4 separate regions of the Homo sapiens genome follow, and all the other regions are linked to region 1. The links come from fine-mapping of genetic effects on gene expression. A gene starts in region 1. Each other region holds a variant in brackets. All regions are shown on one strand. Distances are between the middles of the regions.

The links. PIP is the estimated chance that this variant, and not a neighbour inherited with it, causes the effect.
Region 2: its variant is fine-mapped to the expression of UGGT2 in blood mononuclear cells (TOPMed, PIP 0.93). The same link has a PIP of 0.9 or more in tibial artery.
Region 3: its variant is fine-mapped to the expression of UGGT2 in lung (TOPMed, PIP 0.92).
Region 4: its variant is fine-mapped to the expression of UGGT2 in whole blood (TOPMed, PIP above 0.99). The same link has a PIP of 0.9 or more in esophagus mucosa, ileum, pancreas, spleen, subcutaneous fat and sun-exposed skin.

Annotation. Positions count from the first base shown.
Region 1 is chr13:96,050,618-96,055,770 of GRCh38, reverse strand. UGGT2 (UDP-glucose glycoprotein glucosyltransferase 2) reads left to right here and starts at 2,370. Exons shown (of 39, transcript NM_020121.4): 1 at 2,370-2,616. The coding sequence starts at 2,459. RefSeq lists an enhancer at 2,109-2,608.
Region 2 is chr13:95,955,602-95,960,754 of GRCh38, reverse strand. All of the region lies in intron 12 of UGGT2 (UDP-glucose glycoprotein glucosyltransferase 2), which reads left to right. Among named protein-coding and RNA genes, the nearest start is that of UGGT2, 95 kb to the left of the region's middle. RefSeq lists enhancers at 661-1,160, 1,161-1,662. The variant G/A (reference allele first, on the strand shown) is at 2,198.
Region 3 is chr13:96,000,964-96,006,116 of GRCh38, reverse strand. The region is part of intron 5 of UGGT2 (UDP-glucose glycoprotein glucosyltransferase 2); the gene reads left to right. Among named protein-coding and RNA genes, the nearest start is that of UGGT2, 50 kb to the left of the region's middle. The variant A/G (reference allele first, on the strand shown) is at 3,103.
Region 4 is chr13:95,895,526-95,900,678 of GRCh38, reverse strand. All of the region lies in intron 22 of UGGT2 (UDP-glucose glycoprotein glucosyltransferase 2), which reads left to right. Among named protein-coding and RNA genes, the nearest start is that of UGGT2, 160 kb to the left of the region's middle. The variant T/C (reference allele first, on the strand shown) is at 2,179.

The sequences.
Region 1 (5,153 bases):
AATGTTTCAAATTAAAATTTCTAGGAGAACACCATGTAAGATAAAATGTATAACAAATATATTCATAGATGGCCTAGATTAGATTAATTTTATTCTCTTTAAAAGAGAAATGAGCATTCTCACTATTCTGAACTCACATATAGTGAAATTTTTACTAATATACATTTTATTAGTGTCCTTTAATAGTCTATTTAATGTGCCTTTTATATGGCCAATTATTTCTTAAAGATTTGCAGTCCATTGGATATGCTGACATGTAAGACATTCACTGTCAATATTTTATTTCCTTAATCCCACAATCTCAATAAAAATTTCGGTCTAAATATGAGTGGAAATGGGGAGTTAATTAAAGCAAATAATTGTGAAAGATTCGTAATGTATTTTTCTCGTATACACTATGGATAGAAATGAAGTGCATTTGCCTTAGCTTTCTACATTCTTTCCATAAAGCAAGGGTTCTTCAATCTTCATGGAGTCCCCAAATAACATGTGAATGTGAAGTATTGTGCTAGGTACTGCACGGGATGCCAAAGATGAACAAGGCATGAGTTCTGGGGGAATATACTATCTCTCACAGGAGAAATAAGTAAGTAGCGTACTCAAGTATTAAAGTGAGAACTTAAGTGCTATATGGCAGTTACAATAAAGAGGAAATTTAAAGTAAGGATAGATCATACCAAGTAGGATAAATCAGGAAATGAAGGCTAAACTTTGGAAGTGAGAAATTATTCTGGAAATTCGTGGAACTGCTTAGCGGAATAGGGTTTTCTAAGGAAGGGTACTGACTAAGCAAATGAAACGAAAAAAGGGAATGACTATGTTTCCGCAACTTCAAGAGATCCAGCTTCCCTGCAGGGCAAAGGAGTAACAGGAGAGAAAAAAAGCAATGAATCCGTGCATCCGCTAAACTCTTTTACCATATATTTTACTCTGACAAAACAACTATCACGTATTGGCCTTTTGTTTGTTTGTTTTTTTGAGACACGGTCTCCCTCTTTCGCCCAGGTTGGAGGGCAGTGGCGCAATCACCGTTTTCTGCAGCCTCTACCTCCTCGGCTTAAGCTACCTTCCCGCCTCGACCTTCCAAAGTGCTGGGACTACAGGCGTGAGCCACCATGCTCAGGCTTATTGGCACTTTTCTGTGCACTTTTAAATGTAATCCTCTAAATCACTCTTCTCCACCTTTCCTGTGCATAGGAATCACCTGTGGTTCCCGTTAAATTGGAGATCTTGATTCATTAGGTCTGGGGCGGGGCCTGAGCTTCTGCATTTCCATTGAGCTCACAGCTGAAGCCTACCCTGGACCACACCTTCCAATGGAAAAGGCTCCAGTGTGATTTCTAGCCACTAGTATTATCTGCGAACTTGGGAGAAATAAAATGCAAGTTCTCGGCCCCCGCAAGGGCTCTACTGAATCCGAAACACTGTGGGGAGGCCCACCACTCTGCAGTGTTTTAACAAGCAAGTGGTTAAAGTTTGAGAGCCACCCGTAAGTCACGGGTTTCCTAACATGATTGGACACTGGAATCACCTGCGGATTTTTTTTTTTTTTTTTTTTTTGAGACGGAGTCTCGCTCTGTTGCCCAGGCTGGAGTGCAGTGGCGGGATCTCGGCTCACTGCAAGCTCCGCCTCCTGGGTTCACGCCATTCTCCTGCCTCAGCCTCCCAAGTAGCTGGGACTACAGGCGCCCGCCACTACGCCCGGCTAATTTTTTGTATTTTTAGTAGAGACGGGGTTTCACCGTTTTAGCCAGGATGGTCTCGATCTCCTGACCTCGTGATCCGCCCGCCTCGGCCTCCCAAAGTGCTGGGATTACAGGCGTGAGCCACCGCGCCCGGCCTGCGGATTTTAACTAATACTACTGATGCCGCATCTCACCCCCCCTCCCGAGATTCTCAGGTACGGGGCGTGGCCTTGGCGGCGGCCTTATAAAAGCTCTCCCAGGTGATTCCAACCTGTAGTAACACTTGAGAACTGCGTGAGGTGGGGACTTCAACTTTAACTGGACTTATTTTCCTCCTATGTAAAAGGTGGACAATATGCAAGTGGTCCTGACTTTGCTTCCAGATTTTGGCAACTCCAGAGCCCTAGTTCGGTCTGGAGAGCCAGCTTCCCGCCCCGTGTCCTAAGGCCTCTGTCCGAGAACCCAAAGTCCTGGGAATGGACCCGCGGGAGCGGACCCGCGGGAGCATCTGTGACGCCGCTCAGCAACCCGGCGCCGCCCCGGCGGCTCCGACGTGGCCCAGTGTCCGGCTGGCGTGGGCTCTCCAGGCCGCACCCACTAAACCGCGCCGGAGCGGGACACGCATGCGCCGGTCTGGACCCGGCACCCAGTAACGGACTCGAGCTCCTCCCACCGGAAGTGGGCAGCCGCGCAGCGGGAAGAGCCGGCCGAAGCGTGGCGGCCACAGACTGTGGGTACCGGGTCCGAGGGACTCGCGCTTTTCTCTCCGTGCCATGGCGCCAGCGAAAGCCACGAACGTGGTGCGGCTGCTACTAGGCTCCACAGCGCTGTGGCTTTCGCAGCTCGGCTCCGGGACGGTCGCCGCGTCCAAGTCGGTGACTGCCCACTTGGCCGCGAAGTGGCCCGAGACCCCGCTGCTGCTGGAGGCAAGGTGGGTGCGGGCCGGGCCCTCGTCCGGGCGGGTGTGGGCGCGCTGCCACCCTCAGCCGCGCTTTCTTCGTGCTCGCAGCGGGTGTCTGGCTCCCACCCGGGTTCTCCAGACGCCCCCGCTCTGGCCCTGAGCATCACCACCTCCTTCCTTCCCGACCCGGGGCGGCTTCTCGGTTCCCGTGCAGCACTCACTTGCAGTTCCTTTCCCCCTCAGTCTTACTTTACCTACGATTTTTAAAGCTTCCCTGCCCTGCTTTAATACGTTGGGATGTATTAGCATTTACGCGTGGCACTTAACGCAAGAGCTTCTACTGGGGTAGGCAGTTCTGTTCAGACAGTGCTTAAAGTACCTAGTTTCGTAATGATGACATCATACCATCAGCTCCTAGGCTTACTATGGGGAGGGCAGCTTCCTGCAAGGTAATATTTTTCCTGTATCTCTTCCAACGGAATTAGTTCATGACCTGTCATTTACTCTGCAGAACAAAACTTGTAGCTATTGCATTTTGCCCTTTAGTATTCTAGTTGAGTAAAATTAGAAAGTTCTTTCTCTTAGCAAAAATGAAGTTTTACACCAATGACTTAATGGCTGTTCACCACAGCAACAGTGTGTGTCCCTAAAAAGAGACTCCATGACTCCACATAAGTTCATGTATTTGATGCTAAAAGTTCTTTTTTTTTTTCATTTCTATAGTTTATTGGGGAACAGGTGGTGTTTGGTTACATGAGTAAGTTCTTTAGTGGTGATTTCTGAGATTTTGGTACACCCATCACCCCATCAGTATATACACTGCACCCAATTTGTAGTCTTTTATCCCTCACTCCCTTCTCAACCTTTCCCCCGAGTCCCCGAAGTCCATTGTGTCAATCTTATGCCTTTGCATCCTCATAGCTTAGTTCCCACATATCAGTGAGAACATACTATATTTGGTTTTCCATTTCTGACTTACTTCACTTAGAATAATAGTCTCTAATCTCATCCAGGTTGCTGTGAATGCCATTAATTGATTCCTTTTTATGGCTGAGTAGTGTTCCATCATATATATGCCACAGTTTATCCACTCGTTGATTGATGGGTATTTGGATTGGTTCCACATTTTTGCACTTGTGAATTGTGCTGCTATAAACATACTTGTGCAACTATCTTTTTCATGACTTCTTTTCCTCTGGGTAGATACCTAGTAGTGGGATTGCTGGATCAAATGGTAGATCTACTCTTAGTACTTTGAGGACTCCCCACACTGTTTTCCATAGTGGTTATACTAGTTTACATTCCCACCAGCAGTGTAGAAGTGTTCCCTGTTCGCTGCATCCACGCCAACATCTATTATTTATTTTTATTTTTTTATTATGGCCATTCTTGCAGGAGTAAGGTGGTATCGCATTGTGGTTTTGATTTGTGTTTCCCTGATCATTAGTATGTTGAGCATTTTTTCATGTTAGCCATTTATATATCTTTTGAGAATTGTCTATTCATGTCCTTAGCCCACTTTTTGATGGGACTGTTTTTTTTTTCCTGCTGATTTGAGTTCCTTGTAGATTCTGGATATTAATCCTTTTTCAGATGTATAGATTGTGAAGATTTTCTCCCGTTTTGTGGGTTGTCTGTTTACTCTGCTGACTATTCCTTTTGCCGTGCAAAAGCTGTTTAGTTTAATTAAGTCCCAGCTATTTTTTTTATTATTATACTTTAAGTTCTAGGGTACATGTGCACAACGTGCAGGTACATAGATATACATGTGCCATGTTGGTGTGCTGCACCCATTAACTCATCATTTACATTAGGTGTATCTCCTAATGCTATCCCCCGCTCCCCCAACCCCACAACAGGCCCTGGTGTGTGATGTTCCCCATTGTGTGTCCAAGTATTCTCATTGTTCAGTTCCCACCTATGAGTGAGAACATGAGGTGTTTGGTTTTCTATCCTTGTGATAGTTTGCTGAGAATGATGGTTTCCAGCTGCATGCATGTCCCTACAAAGGACATGAACTCATCCTTTTTTATGGCTGCATAGTATTCCGTGGTGTATATGTGCCACATTTTCTTAATCCAGTCTATCATTGACGGACATTTGGGTTGGTTCCAAGTCTTTGCTATTGTGAATAGTGCCGCAATAAACATGTGTGTGCATGTGTCTTTATAGCAGCATGATTTATAATCCTTTGGGTATATACCCAGTAATGGGATGGCTGGGTCAAATGGTATTTCTAGTCCTACATCCTTGAGGAATCGCCACAATGTCTTCCACAATGGTTGAACTAGTTTACAGTCCCACCAACAGTGTAAAAGTGTCCCTATTTCTCCACATCCTCTCCAGCACCTGTTGTTTCCTGACTTTTTAATGATCGCCCTTCTAACTGGTGTGAGATGGTATCTCATTGTGGTTTTGATTTGCATTTCTCTGATGGCCAGTGATGATGAGAATTTTTTCATGTGTCTGTTGGTTGCATAAATGTCTTCTTTTGAGAAGTGTCTGTTCATATCCTTCACCCACTTTTTGATGGGGTCGTTTAATTTTTTTCTTGTAAATTTGTTTAA
Region 2 (5,153 bases), 95 kb after region 1:
ACAGTTTGACTATAATTTGCCATGGGCAAAACCTTTTGGAATTGTATCTATTTGGGAATCTCTGTGCCTCCTGTATTTGGATATCTAAATCTCATTAGACTTGGGAAGTCTTTTTCTGTTATTTCATTAAATAGGTTTTCTAATACTTTTTTTTTAATCTTCTGGGACAGCAAAATTCAAATATTTGGTCACTTTATGGTGTCTCATATGTCACATAGGCTTTGCTTATTCTTTTTTGTATGTATTTTTATTTGACTGGGATATTTCAAAAGTCTTGTCTTAAAATTCTGAGATTCTTGATTCTACTTGATTTAGTCCACTGCTGAAGCTTTTCAATACATTTTACATGTCATTCAATGAATTTTCTATTTGGTTCTGGTAAATTTCTCACTTATTTCCTGAATTGTTTTTCTGATATTTTTGGATTGTTTTAAAGTATTCTCTTATAGCTCACTGAGCTTAATTTCAATATTTTGAATTGTTTTTCTGGGATTTCATAAATGTCTTTTAGATTGGGATCTGTTGCTGGAGAATTATTGTGTTCCTTTGGAGATTGCTTATGTTCCTGTGTCCTTACGTTGACATCTGTGCATCTGGTGTAACAGTTACTTATTCCATTTTTTAAAAATTTCCATTGTTAGGGGAAGACTTTTTCCTGACCATTTATGGTGTTAGTTGCATAGTACACTTTTTGGCATTGATTCTCAATGTGTGCAGTAGGGTAATCTCTGTATGATTTCTTCATCTGTAAACAGCATCAGTGGTGTCTCTGTTTGCTAGGTGGCTTGTAGCACAGTTGCTAGTGGAGGCTGTGATGAAGTTTTGCTGAAATGTGGGACACCAGTTGGGCCAGACTTAGGGCCCTATGGGTGGCGATGGTGGGTTGAGCCTTGGCCCCCAGGGTGGTGTACACTAGCACCAGTGTTAGCAGGTGCAGGGAGGTTGATTCTTGGGCCTCTAGATGACTTGCTTGGGTGCTGGGAATGACAGTGGTAGGTAGGTTCTTGAGCACCTGAGCAGTGGTTGTGGCACGGGCAATGGCAGTAAGTGGCGGGACAATTCTCTAGGACCTAAGGGTCCATGCCAGTGTTGGCAGTAGCTGTGATGGGCTGGGTCAGCCATTGCCCAGGCCCTGAGGTGATGGTAGTGGCAGGTTGGGTGGGCATGACACTGGGAGGTGTGCTCAGATGCCAATGGTAATGGATTGTGCTGGGTGATCCCCACGTCCCTGGACAGCATGCTTAGGTACTGGGGGTGATAGAACCAGGCAAGATGGTTCTTAGGCCCCATGTTGGTACATTCAGGCTCTGGCTATGGTTGGTGGGCAGCAGGGGAGCGGGATGATCCACCGGCCATAGGTGGATGCTCAGGTAGAGGCAGCAGCAGCAGCTGTGCTGCTGTTCTGCTACTGGAGAGGGTGAAGTCACTTTCAACAGGAGCAATTGGAGGCAGGTGGCTGGGGCATGCTTTGCTCATCCTATGTCCCCCCACCCCAAAACACACACACACAGTTTGCAGCAAATGGAATTTGTCCTCAGGTGCATGGAAATGTGTGATTGTCCCTCTGCTGGGGAGGCAGTGTGACTGCCAGTGGTTCTGCCTTGGCCCTAGCAGGGAATGTCAGTGGGACCCCAGAGATATGGAGATGCGGGGGCTGTTAGGCCCCAGGGCAGGACACAGTCTGTGGGAGCTGGGCTCTCAAAATGATGCCATACTGCAGTGGCTTAGGACTCAGGGGTTTGTGGGACTGGGCATGAGCTCCCTCTCTGGATCAGTGGCATTGTGCAATCTCCAGGTAGCTCCCTCTGTTAGTCTCAGAAGCCCATAAGGGTGAAGGGGCTTTTCCATGGTTAGGTTGGTAGGAGTCCGTAGTGGAAACGTGGACTGCTGAGGGTCTCTCACTTACACTTTCCTTGCATTAGGGAACCTCTCTAGGCTTCCAGCCAATCCCAGCCTAGCAGTCTGCCTTATTTCCCTCTCCTTTCTTGCTTTCGGGTACTCCTGTCACTTCTCTGGTGAATTCCAGTGTGCTCCCTTAGACGACCTATTCGAAGTGTGATTATCTGCTTACTATATTGGTTCCTTTCCATGGAAGAGGCAAGTAGCAGATACATCTATTCAGCCATCTTGAAGCCCCTTCTTAAAAAAAAAAAAAAAAAAGATCTTAAGGGGAAAAATCCTCTCTGAAATTTTTGCT[G/A]ATTGTTTTATATAAAAATGTAAGGGATTCTCTCTGAAGCATCTCAGTTATTATAGTTAGTTTTGCCTTACTTGAAAAACCTTCCTGCTCATAAACTACCTGCCTTTGGCCAGGCGTGGAGGCTTACGCCTGTAATCCTAGCACTTTGGGAGGCCTAGGCGGGTGGATCATGAGGTCGAGAGATGGAGACCATCCAGGCTAACACGGTGAAACCCCGTCTCTACTAAAAGTACAAAAAATTAGCCGGGCATGGTGGCGGGCGTCTGTAGTCCCAGCTACTCGGGAGGCTGAGGCAGGAGAATGGCATGAACCTAGGAGGCGGAGCTTGCAGTGAGCCAAGATCGTGCCACTGCATTCCAGCCTGGGCGACAGAGCAAGACTCTGTCTTAAAAAAAAAAAAAATTCTGCCTTCTCAGAGCCAAAGGACTATAGCAGCCCGAAAGAAACGCCATATTCCCTGAACATCAGAAACTTCAGATTCAGGATAAATAACAAATTACTAAGTAGTTATCATTTGTGTTTTCTAGAACACGAAGTGACTTGTTATATAGATGTTTGTTACTGTTTTCTACCACTCTTTAGACCGTATTCTTTCATTGGCTAGATTTTACTTTTACTTTGTCTTTAATCTCAATAGCAGATGTCTTTTCTAAAAATGTTATGTCAGAAAAAGGAATGACCTTGTAAGTAATCTTAATACTTGTATCTGATATTTAAGAATTTGTGCTTTTTAGCTTTTGTAGAAAAGAATGCTGAGAGAGAGTCACACAGAAAATTAGTGCAGTAATTGTCAAGGCTCTTCTAGACATAGTAAACAGACCTATAAAGAAACCTTCCTATTCTCTTTGTAAAATAATATCCTAGCTTGCTTCTAAGGTTGGCAGTGAAGGACAGTCACTCTGTGTGTGGAGGAGCAGTTGGACTTTTAAGCCCTTATGCTGCTCCCATTGTCCCCACACTCTGCAAAGCCCCATTTCCCTGAGTTGTCTCTCAGATTCTGGCAAGCTTTCAGATATCAGTCTCAGACGGTGTGCCTCCCTTCTCTGCCACCCTGCTGCTTTCAGCAGACTATCTCTTCATAAGCACTGATAAGACTGCTAATTTGTCAAGACTACCACAGGCCCCAAACCCCAGGAATTCCAGTCCATAAGGAGTATAGCTGGTTTTGGAACCCACCCTCCATAAAGGTTGTGTTCCCACGAGATTGTCACAAAGTAGTTTTTATTCAGGTTAGATATACATGGCATAAAATTTGCTCTTTTAACCATTCAGTGGCATTAAGTACATTCACAGTGTTGTACAACCATCACCACCATTTATTTTCAGAACTTTTTCATTATCCCGAACGAAGCTCTGTTCACATTAAACATTAAATCCCCATACCCTTCTTCCTGAAGACTCTGGTAAGCTCTATCTACTTTCTGTCTTTATTAATTTGCCTATTGATATTTCATATAAGTGGAATTATACAATATTCTTTTGTGTCTGGCTAATTTCACTTAGCATAATATTTTCAGGGTTCATCCATGTTGTAGCATGTATCAGAATTTTGTTCCTTTTTAAGACTGAATAATATTTCATTGAATGTATATACCACAGTTTGTTTATCCATTCATCTGTTGGACATTTACACTGCTGCTAACTTTTGGCTATTGTGAATAATGCTGTGCTATGAACTTTGATGTACAAGTACCTGTGTGAATCTCTGCTTTCAGTTCTTGTGGGTATATACCTAGAAGTAGAATTGCTGAATCATATGGTATTTCTGTGTCTAACTTTTTTGACAAACTGCCAAACTGTTTTTCACAGCTGTTACATCATTTGTCATTACCACTGTCAGTTCACAAGTGTTCCCATTTCTCCACATCCTCACCAATTCTTGTTATTTTCTGGTTTTGGCATGTTTTGCTTTGTGGCAATTGCCATCCTAATGAGTGTGAACTGGTATCTCATTGTGGTTCTCATTACATTTCCTTAATGACTAGTGATGTTGAGCATTGATTCATAATACCTGTTGGCCATTTGTATATCTTCTCTAGAGGAATATCTATTCAAGTCCTTTGCCCATTTTAAATTGGGTTCTTTGTTTTTTGTTGAGTTGTAGGAGTCCTTTATATATTCTGGATATTAATTCCTTATCAGATATATGATTTGCAAATATTTATTCCCATTCTGTAGGTTGCCTTTTGACTGTTAGTAGTGTCCTTTGATGTACAACAAAATTTTAATTTTTATGAATTCCACCTTTTTTTGGTTACCTTTGCTTGGCACCCTTGTCAGATATCAGTTGATCATAAATGCAGATTTATTTCTGGGCTGTCTAGTCTATTCCACTGATCTGTATGTCTGTCCTTATTCTAGTACCACATTGTTTTGATTACTGTAGCTTTATAGTCAGTTTTGAAATCAAGAGGTGTGAGTTCTCCAACTTTATACTTCTTTATCAAGATTGTTTTAGCTTGTCGTTAAATTTTATTTCCTGCTCTGCTTTGTGATTGCCTTTTACTAACAACAGTGGCTTAAATTTATTGAGCAGAGTGCCAGATACTATGTTCAGCATTTAAAATGAATTATCTCATTTTATTTGCACAGCGACCCTATTAGGTATTGATAGCATCCCCATTATACAGATGAAGAAACTGAGACACTAAAAGGTTATTTGAACTCATGCTTGTAACTGTGACATCATATTACTTAGTTACATTTACTGCATCTGTTTAAACATTTCCTAAAGTTCAAAAGAAATATCACTTTATAGACTTTATCTTAAAATGAAGAAGTATGCACAAAAAATGAACAATAATATGCAGCAGCCCTGTTTGAGCGCTTTGAAAACTGAAAACTTAGGGAGGCTTGACCCTCTAACCAAACCCTCTACTGCCCATGTGTACCTGGTTGAGGGAAAGAGTGTGGGGCTAAACTCTGAGCACATTTCTCCTGGCCGTGTCTTGTGTGT
Region 3 (5,153 bases), 50 kb after region 1:
TTCTTTTTTACATCTGATTTTGAAATTGTTGATTGATTTGTCTCTTCAGACTTTTGTTCCATTGACTTCTTGGACATCTTGTGATTTTCGTTGTTATTAAAAGCTCAACATTTTGTGTAGGAGCCTTGACCCTGCCTTTAGTTTAGGCCATGCCTTTCATGTATGCAGGATTGAGGTGTTCTGGTCAGGAGTTGGGTTGGGTTTCACGTTTGTGTTCCACTTGGCTTTAGGTCTCCCCACTTAGATTTGGATCTTCCCTTTGTACAGCTCCCCAAAGACAATGTGTTTCTTATAGCTTTCCCACCTGTATTTCAGCGTTATCTTTACTCAACCCTTGTTAGATTGGCCTTGAGGTGAAGGTGAGGGGGCAGCTAAGGAAGGGGATATTCTCTGATGTTCCAATTAAGTTTCCTTTCTAGGCATACTGTAAATTTGGGCCTCAAGGTTTCTGATCCTCTCTCAGAATGTTGGGCCTGGCAGGTATTCCCGTCCTTCCTTCAGACTAAGACTTTCATCTGTTCCATTTCTCCCGTCTTCAGTGGGCTTCCACCAGTACACTATATAGCTACAATTTTGTTGCCCTTGCCTCTGAAGATTAAGGCTTTGGTTCTATAGGGGAGATAGGTCTGAAGTGGATTTCAGCAGTGATTTTTCTTTCCTCTCTACCTGTCACCATTAGAGTGGAAGCTTTCTCAGGACCTTCCCCAGTCTTCCCTGTGCAAGAGGGTTTCAGCCTTGCTATGTCTGGAGCTACCAGGGGCTTCACACTCTCACGTTAGCCCACATTTAGCCTTTAGCAAGCTTTATAGATTTCTAGCTAAATATCTTTACCAGCTTCACTAGCATTTGGTGGTATCTGTCCTGGGTATTCAAATGTTCACCTTCCCACAGGTGCCTTTTTCTTCTGTTATCATTCTCGTTCCTTCTGCTTTATTTTTTCTTCAGAAAATTTTCTAATACAAAAAGCCTAAAAATAATAAACTTTTTGTATATGCTACCCAGAATTGACAGCTAACATTTTATCTTTTCAAGTTTATTTTTTAATTGAAGTAATAAAACTTTAAAAATAAAGTTGAAGATTATTTTGTTTTCCATTATCAGTCTCATTCTCTACCCCAACACCAATTGGAGTGTTCTTTTAAATAATAAAGTGCTGTCACTCCTAGAGATCTTTCTTCGTTAGATCTGGCACATTGGTTGGGAATATATAGCATATGATTCTGAGGCCCTCTGATATCTGTCCACTGAAGAAAGAGAAAGATGAGACATTCTAGTTCTGAGAGAGGAGGTCATAACTAGGTGGCTGTTTAATAAGGATACAATGCTTATAAAATTATTTTTCCTTGTTTTGAAACATACAATAAATTATTTTTTTGGTTTTATTACATTTTTTTCTGTTCTTTTTTTCATTTATTATTATTATACTTTGGGGGGAGGGGGGAGGGATAGCATTGGGAGATATACCTAATGCTAGATGACGAGTTAGTGGGTGCAGCGCACCAGCATGGCACATGTATACACTAACCTGCACATATGTAACTAACCTGCACATTGTGCACATGTACCCTAAAACAATAAATTATTAACCATAGTCACTCGATTGTGCTGCTGAACACTAGATGTTATTCTTCCTAACTGTATTTTTATACCCATTAACCATCCCCTCTTAATCCCCACATCCCCACTAGTTTTTCCATCTTCTGGTAACTACCATCATTCTAGTCTCTGTCTCCCTGACTTCAAAAATTGGAATGTTCCTAACACAAAGAAATAATAAAATGTTTGAGGTGATAGATATCCCAAATACCCTGATTTGATCATTACATTTTGTATGTTTGTATCAAATTATAACATATACCCCATAAATATGTGCAACTTTTCTGTATCCATAATAATTAAAAATAAAAAATTTTAAAAACAAATATGTTTTTTTTTTTTTTCCTAGAGTTGCTTAGATACCATAGCTTTGCTGCTTACCTGGGGATAGCTTTGCTGCTTACATGGGGAATCCAAAATTTAAGTTTCTTAGTGCTGATTGAAGCTATCTTATAACTTCTGAAAGCAGTAATATATGATTGTAGAGGATGAAAATCTCTTAAGTTACTACTATTTATGAGGAAACTAGGTATTCTTTGAATTAGAAATTTGTTAGAGGAATCTGTCATCTCTTCCTTCTTTCTTTCCTCCATGCACATTTATTAGATGCTGTGTCTGTGTCTGAATTGCTTTGTAACAAATCTTCTCAAAATTTAGTGGCTTAAGGAAATATTGACTTACTGTTTCTCTTTATTCTGTGGGTTGACAGTCGGGGCACTTTTTCTGCTGGTATTGTTCATGCAGTGAGGGTCATTCAGTACTAGATTAGAGCTTGGGGATTCAAATTATTCTGACAGACCTGTGTGGCAGTTCAGGCTGATAGCTGGAGTTTCTTGTCTTTTTCTACATGGCCTTTCATCTTCCAAGAGTTAGACTATGATTCTTCACATCATGATGGCTTAGGGTCCCAAAAAGAAAAGAGTAGAACTTGCAATACCTCTTAAGCCCTATGCCCAAGAACTCATACAGTGATACTTCTGCCACCTTGTGTTAGTCAAAGCAAGTCACAAGGCCAGCCAGATTCAAAAGAATGGAAAAATAGACTCAATTTCCTGGTGAGAAGTAGCAAGGTCACATTGCAAAGGAGTCTGGACATGGGAAGGAGTTACTCATTTGTGGCCTTTATAATAATCTTCCACAAATGCCTGTAATTTGGGCACTGTGCTTAGTACTGGTGATAGAAGATAAGTAGCTTATTTCAGTATCTTAATTTTGTTTTATATATTTGATAATTTTATGATGCAGGTTCACTGTGCACTGGTATCAATCCCAGGGGAGGACTGTAAACACCTTGCCAATACTGTGTACCAGTATCAATCCACTGGCATGAGTCTGGTGAGACAGAACACACAATAAGTTTAGGGAAGCAACTTTATTACTCACAGACAGGCAGCAAGGGACAATAGACACCTAAGGATTCATGGCAAGCTCATCCCCCAAAGCTTAGGATAGCTGTCCAGGATGGATGGAGTCTCACGTGCACGTCATTCATGTTGCACCGCAGCT[A/G]AGGAACTCTGAAAGCCTGCTCTGCCCTGGGTTTTATACCTAGGAGCAACTTGATGAGCTGTGCTAAAGCATTGCAAGACATCCTGTTCTAGGAGCTATGGGAACAGAGCTTGGCTTTACTGGCAATTCCTTCATATTTCTTGCATTTCCAGCACATCATTCTACAGTTATTCTGAGATTTACAAGTGAGAAAGCGAGGAAGAGCTGGGTTGCCAAGATCTTTTGGGGACTTGCCCTACAATAACATCATATAAAATGTGTTTTTTCCCTCAGTGTTCTTCACATTCTCAATTTTAATTGTTCATTGTATAATTTTGAGTTAGTTATTGCTATTTAGTAAAAGTGGAAAATCTTAAATATTCTTGAGTGTGTTGGCATATAGATATTTGCATAATCTACATAAAGATTATCTGTAAAGTGAGATGTAAAGAGAAAGTGTGGGTGTGTGTACAGTTTGTAAATGATTACATATTTAAGTCATTAATTTCATAAATATTTGGATGCCTCTGTGCCAGGCATTGGTTCATGTAGCAGTGAATAAGAGAGAAACATTCCTTATTCTCAGAGAACTTCAATTTTAGTGGCAAGAGATGTAAAACAGATTTATGTTAGATGGTGATGAAAGTGTTTTCAGAAAAGATAAATATAAAAGAAGAGGACAGAGAGTCATGGGTCTAGAGTGTGCACTCAAAACATTTTATATTGTCTAATCATCTTATGCCAAGAATTCTCAATTTTTCCCAACTGAGTTTGCTAGAAGGATGGATACATTACCATCAATAACAGTAGCACCTTAAGACTATGATTCTCTGTCAGATAAGGCAGAGCTGAGAGGCAAATGAGAATAGGAACGGGAGTGGGAGATACAAGTACAGTTTACCCTTAAGCATGTGTGAGTTAGAGATACTGACCCCTCATGTTGTTAAAAAATATATGTATAACTTTGGACTCCACTAAAACTTAAGTAGTAATAACCTACTGTTGACTGGATGCCTTACTGATAACAGAAACAGTCAATTAACACATATTTTTCATGTCACATGTATTATTCTGTAATTCTTACAGTAGAGTAAGCTAGATAAGTAATGTTATTAAGAAAGTCATAAGGAAGAGAAAATATATTTTTCATTAAATAGAAGTGGATCATCATAAAGGTTTTTATCCTCATAGTCATGTTGAGTAGGCTGAGGAGGAAATGGAAGAGGAGAGGCTGGACTTGCTGTTTCAGGTGGCAAGGTGGGAGAAAATCTATAAGTAACTGTCTATAAAAGTAGATATCTATAAAATATCTGTTTCTTGTAAAAATTTATAAGAAAATCTGTAAGTAAACCTGTGCAATGAACCTTGTTGTTGTTAATTGTCTGTGTTTGTCTTTTTTAAATGTTCTCCCAAGTGGTTCTAACATGCCCCTGGGGAGCTATGCCCATCTGTTGTGAGAATCTGTCTCAAGTTATTATTTAGAGTTTCATGCGCGTCCGTGTGAAGAGACCACCAAACAGGCTTTGTGTGAGCAACAAGGCTGTTTATTTCACCTGGGTGCAGGCGGGCTGAGTCCGAAAAGAGAGTCAGCGAAGGGAGATGGGGTGGGGCCGTTTTATAAGATTTGGGCAGGTAAAGGAAAATTACAGTCAAAGGGGGTTTGTTCTCTGGAGGGCAGGAGTGGGGGTCGCAAGGTACTCAGTGGGGGAGCTTTTTGAGCCAGGATGAGCCAGGAAAAGGACTTTCACAAGGTAATGTCATCATTTAAGGCAAGGACCGGCCATTTTCACTTCTTTTGTGGTGGAATGTCATCAGTTAAGGTGGGGCAGGGCATTTTCACTTCTTTTGTGATTCTTCAGTTACTTCAGGCCATCTGGGCATATACGTGCAAGTCACAGGGGATGCGATGGCTTGGCTTGGGTTTGGGCTCAGAGGCCTGACATAGAGAATGTGACCATTAAGTGTGCTTCTGTGAAATCATATTAACTATCTGGGCATTTAGTAACATCAAATTATAGCCTTATATTTAATGAATGACATCTTTTATGTTCAAAATAACTATAATGTAAATC
Region 4 (5,153 bases), 160 kb after region 1:
CAGACACAACTCAGCATAAATAAAATGGGGTCATGACACACTTCCCATTCCTTCATTCTTTCCCCCATTTAATGAGAATGATGATGTGGGTAAGGAAGAATGTTCTTTATGTGTCTTGCTTTTATTTTGTTCTAATGTAAGTATTAGAAGGAACAACTTAATGCACATCTTCAAAACATTGTCATTAGAACCACTGTTGTAGTAGGTGTAGCAAGTAGGTTATGACATCTTTCTTCTTGTTCCTACAGTTGTGTATGTTAAATGGCATTAGATACTATTTTCAGTTTTGAAGTATCAAGTAGTATAAATTGCCATGTAGTATTTATTAATAAAATATTTACAAGGCTGTAGGAAGAAAATCTCTTACTCTCCAACCACCCTAATAAAACTTAATAGCTTATTGTTTTTCCTTTCAGCCCTTTTTTCTACCATACATAGATAGCCATTTTTGGTTTTTTAGAATACATCCTTATAATCCTACTATATATAATTTTACATCATGATTTTTCTGTTAATATAAATGTTTTTCTGATTGCAGTCTTTGTAGACACATACAAAATAAGTGGATGATATCTATATACTAATATTTTTAATATGATAGTCTTATTTCATACAAATTGTTTAAGTAAAAAACTGAATCTGGTGCTTAGGTTTATTAAGAAATCAACAAATGCAGTGTTTTTCACGTATCTGTGGCTTGAATTTTCAAATTATATATCCCTCAATCATCTTCAAAGTTCTAATGCACTCTTAATGTTTTGTTTTTCACTTACTTTTGAATTCTGTTCACCTGCATATTAGATTCAGGTTCATCTATGTACAGTGCTATTTTACACATGTCAAAAGCTGCCATTTATTGTAAAAAGTATTGGTGAATTTTGGTAGTGAGATATGTAGAGCTCTGTAAATGGCATTGCTTTTTCACTTTAAAAGTTACTTTGGGAGGAAATACAGCTTTTAAAAACAGTTCTAAAGCTTTTGGCTGTCTTTGACCATGTCAAGCATTTTAAGGGATAAAGAGGGAAACAATGGCACCTGTTTTATCTAGTGCCTTACCTTTTAGTTATATACTAGGGAAAAGCTATCCTATGTCTTGTCATTTTGATATAATTCATATAGTGTTATTGACATTAATGATAACAAATACTAGATACAGTTATGTTCAACTTATTTCTCATAAACATAAAACTATGTTTTGTCCTGACTTTCCTTAAAATTGATAAAAATATTAAGATATTAATCTTACACCTACTGTGAACCAAACATTCTTCTAGATTCTGAAGGCACAGCAGTAAACAACTACGTTTTCATGGGGCTAATATTTTGATGGATAGAGAGAGACAACAAACAGCACCCTTACTGATAAGGCATCTATCTTAAGTATGTTTATGCTGCTATAAAAATATGCCACAGACTGGCTAATTTATAAAGAACATAAATTTATTTCTTATACTTCTGGATGCTTGGAAATGTAAGGCTGACGTGCTGCCATGGATGTCTGGTGAGGGCTGCTCTCTGCTTCCAGGATGGCTCCTTGTTGCTCTGTTTTTACATGGTGGAAAGTAGAAGGGCAACAGAGTGCTCCCTTCAGTCTTGAACTCTTTTATTATAAGGATACAAATTCCATTCATGAGGGCAGAGCCCTCGTGGCTTAATCATCTCCCAAAGGCCACACCTCTCAGTGCTATCGCACTGGCCACTAAGTTTCAACACATGGGTTTTGAGGGACACGTTTTGTCTTAATCTGTTTTGTGCTGCTGTAACAAAATACCTGAGACTATATAATCTCAGAAATCTATTAAAGAACAGAAATTTATTCTCTCATACTTCTGGAGGCTGGGAAGTCCAAGATCAAGGCACTGGCATCTGATGGGAGCTTTCTTGCTGCATCCTCATACGGCAGAAGGCAGTGGGGCAAAAAGGGGATGAGTGCTATGTTCCTACATGGCAGGAGAGAGCAAACCCACTCCTGAAAGCCTTTTTATAGTGGCATTAGTCCATTTTGAGGCACAGCCCTCATGACCTAAACACCTCCCATTAGGCCCCAGCTCCCAACACTGTTGCATTGGGGATTCAGTTTTAACATAAATTTTGGAGAGGACAAAGACATTCAAACCATAGCACATTCATAGCAGTGTCATATGGGCAAAGAACCAAAGAAGGTGAAGGAGGAAGCCA[T/C]GTCAAATATCTGGAAGAGGATTGTTCTAGACAGAGTACAGTGAATGCAAAGGACGTGAGGTGAGTTCATGTCTGTGAATCCTGTGAATCATGTCTGCTATTCTAAGAATAGCAGGTAGGAAGAGAGCAGGCAGGAGAGAAGCCAGAGAAGTAGCTGGGGGCCAGATCATATTGGGTTTTATAGGAAGTTTAAGGACTCCCACTTTACTCTGAATGAGTTGGGAAGTGCATAGTTCTGGGCAGGAGATTGGCATCATCTAGCTTATGTTTTATTTGGATCACTAGAGGCTGTTACATTGGGAATATACAATAGGGGGTCAGGGAGCCAGTTGGGAGATAATGCAGTAGTCCAGATGAGAGATGATGGTGGCTTGGACCAGAATGGTTCTAGTGGTGGTAGTAAGAAGTGGATATGGGATGTATTTTATGTGAAGAATGGACAGGAATTGTCCAGGGACTTTGGTGTGAGATGTGAGAGAACTAAGTTACTGGCAGAGTGGAGTTACTGTGGATCAAGGTGAGGAAGGCTGCAGGATGAGTGAGGTTGTCAGGAGCAGTATAAGAAGAAGGAAAGAGAATTCAGTTTGGACCTCCAAAAAGACTTGTTAAGAAGGTGATTGAATATGAGTGTAGTACAGAGGAAGGATTGGGGCTGGAGATAGATATTAAGTCAAATTATGTTGATTTTTTCTGTTGACTAATGGAAAAATGTAATTTCAATTATCCTTTTATTTGTATAACTGTGGTTTTAATAGAAAAGTATATTGGAAAATAAGTCTGTGGTTTATGAGCGATAATGTAATACTTAGCTTATCACTCTGAAAGTAATGCTGTTAAGCATAATAATCACAGCAATGTGGCAGATGTTATAAAAATTTGGAATCAGATAGTTTAATGCTTGAAATAAGTATGATATTTTAGTATAAATCTTCATTCTGAGCCTGTTCAAATGTTTCCATTAGAATTGGAACATATGAAAAGTTAAAATTGTTTATAAATGATCAACAACTAGGGTACAATGATGATCACACAGTTTCTTAAAAACACTGAATAATTTAAAATTGACATATTTAATATTAATGCCACAAATAATGCCATTGTTATAATAATATTTATTTGTATTACACTACATATTCACAGTTTGCTGAAAGACATGGGGTAGCAGGGAGTAGGGAACAAAAGCAGGGTCTTTTTTTTGTTTTATAGTCAGATCTGGATTCAAATTCCAGTTGCACCATTAATTACATTACACTGTGAGACCTGATTTCTTCATTTGGACAATGAGAATGATAATAATCTGTCTTACAGGATTGTTGGGGTGATTAAATATGCTCCTATATTTAAAGCACATAGAAGGAACCCAAACACAGAGTAAATTTTCAGTAAATATTAACTGCTATTTTCTCTCAATATTTGAAGGGCATCATGAAAAATAATGGGCATTTGTAGACTTAATTTGTGTTACACTAGCTAAAAGTTAGCATAAAATCAAAACTAGTTGATCAAACTTCTGTGAGTAGAGAGACATTTTTAGCTCAGTATGTGGATGAAAATCTGACAGAGTTTTCTGCAATTTTCATGACCTGTCAAATGAAGTAATGCATTTCTGTTACAGCAATTATTCTATGTAACTGAAAAATCACATTTCTCAAATGTTATGAAGAAGATTTAAGCAACATAATTTTCAAGTTTATTGTTCTTTTACCCAACTTGGACATTATGTGATTTTATGCTATTTAAGTTACTTTATTCCACAAATTTTCAGCTTTAAATAGAACCAAGACACAGAAACATTAGGTTTCTCCTGTTTGATGCTGTGCTTAATGTAAGCAAAATACAGCCAGTTTTCTGGTAAATTTAATCAGTAAAGATAGCCAATGTAGTTAACCCCTTAAAACAATACTTTTAAGATTTTATTTCCTTATTCTAATGTTACTAACAAAACTGCCCCTGTCGCTAGAGGTAGTATAGATAAGATTCAACTGTTTTCCAAGACTGCTGATTCATTGTTCAGAAATGTAACATTGAATGTGCTTTCAAAGTTGCTTTAAAAATTATATCACGTCTTAAGACAATGAAATGTTTATATGAGTACTTTTAGTATTATAGTGCCCATTTTTGTGTTTTTAAGAGCCCGTGTTTTATATTTAAGGTGAAACATGATATTTATTTAGTTGAGATGCCAAAATCCCAGTTAGTCACCTTTGATATGAGAAAATGGGATAGAAAGATTCAAGAACTATGCTTCAGTAATTTTTAGAAAAGATGAACTGTAGGAGCAGGTGAAGGGGAAGTGAGAAAATCTGGCTACAGCCATTACATTCTGGTCTTTTTACCAAGAAAAAAATAATCTGGTTGACGTGTTTTCTGATTATCATTAAATATAATTGTTTTGTACATAGGATTATGTCAGTCTACAGTAGGGTTTTGTGTACGTGGTGTTAGAATGATTGTTATGTACTAATTTCCTCAGAAAGTGCTCATGGTAGTAGAGTCAGTAGTGGTTGTGATGGGAGAGCCATTCTGAGAAATTAGGTATGTGGCAATTTGGCAGCTTCTAACTTTGTAGTTACTGGTTTAAAGTTAATATAGGTGACCTTGCTAGGCTCCTAACCATTTATACAGTATCAGTTAAAAGAAGACTGGTTGGTATTATTATAGTAAGTATGTGATTTTTATGTGATTTTTCTCTTGGGTTTTGCTATTTTATGGCTTTCTTATAAAGTAATTCATGTCTATATAGTGTAGAGTACAATTTATAGATGAAGGTGAAAGAAAATTGAAATTAAAAGATTTTTAAAAATATAGACCATTGCTTTCAAAATTGAATTCAGATTGAAATGGTATTTGGAAGCATCATGATTTATGTTTCAAATCACGATTTATGATTTATGTTTCAAATCATGATTTATGATTTATGTTTCAAAGTAAAACTTTCTAATGGAAATAATTTGCTAATTTTTTATATTGTCACT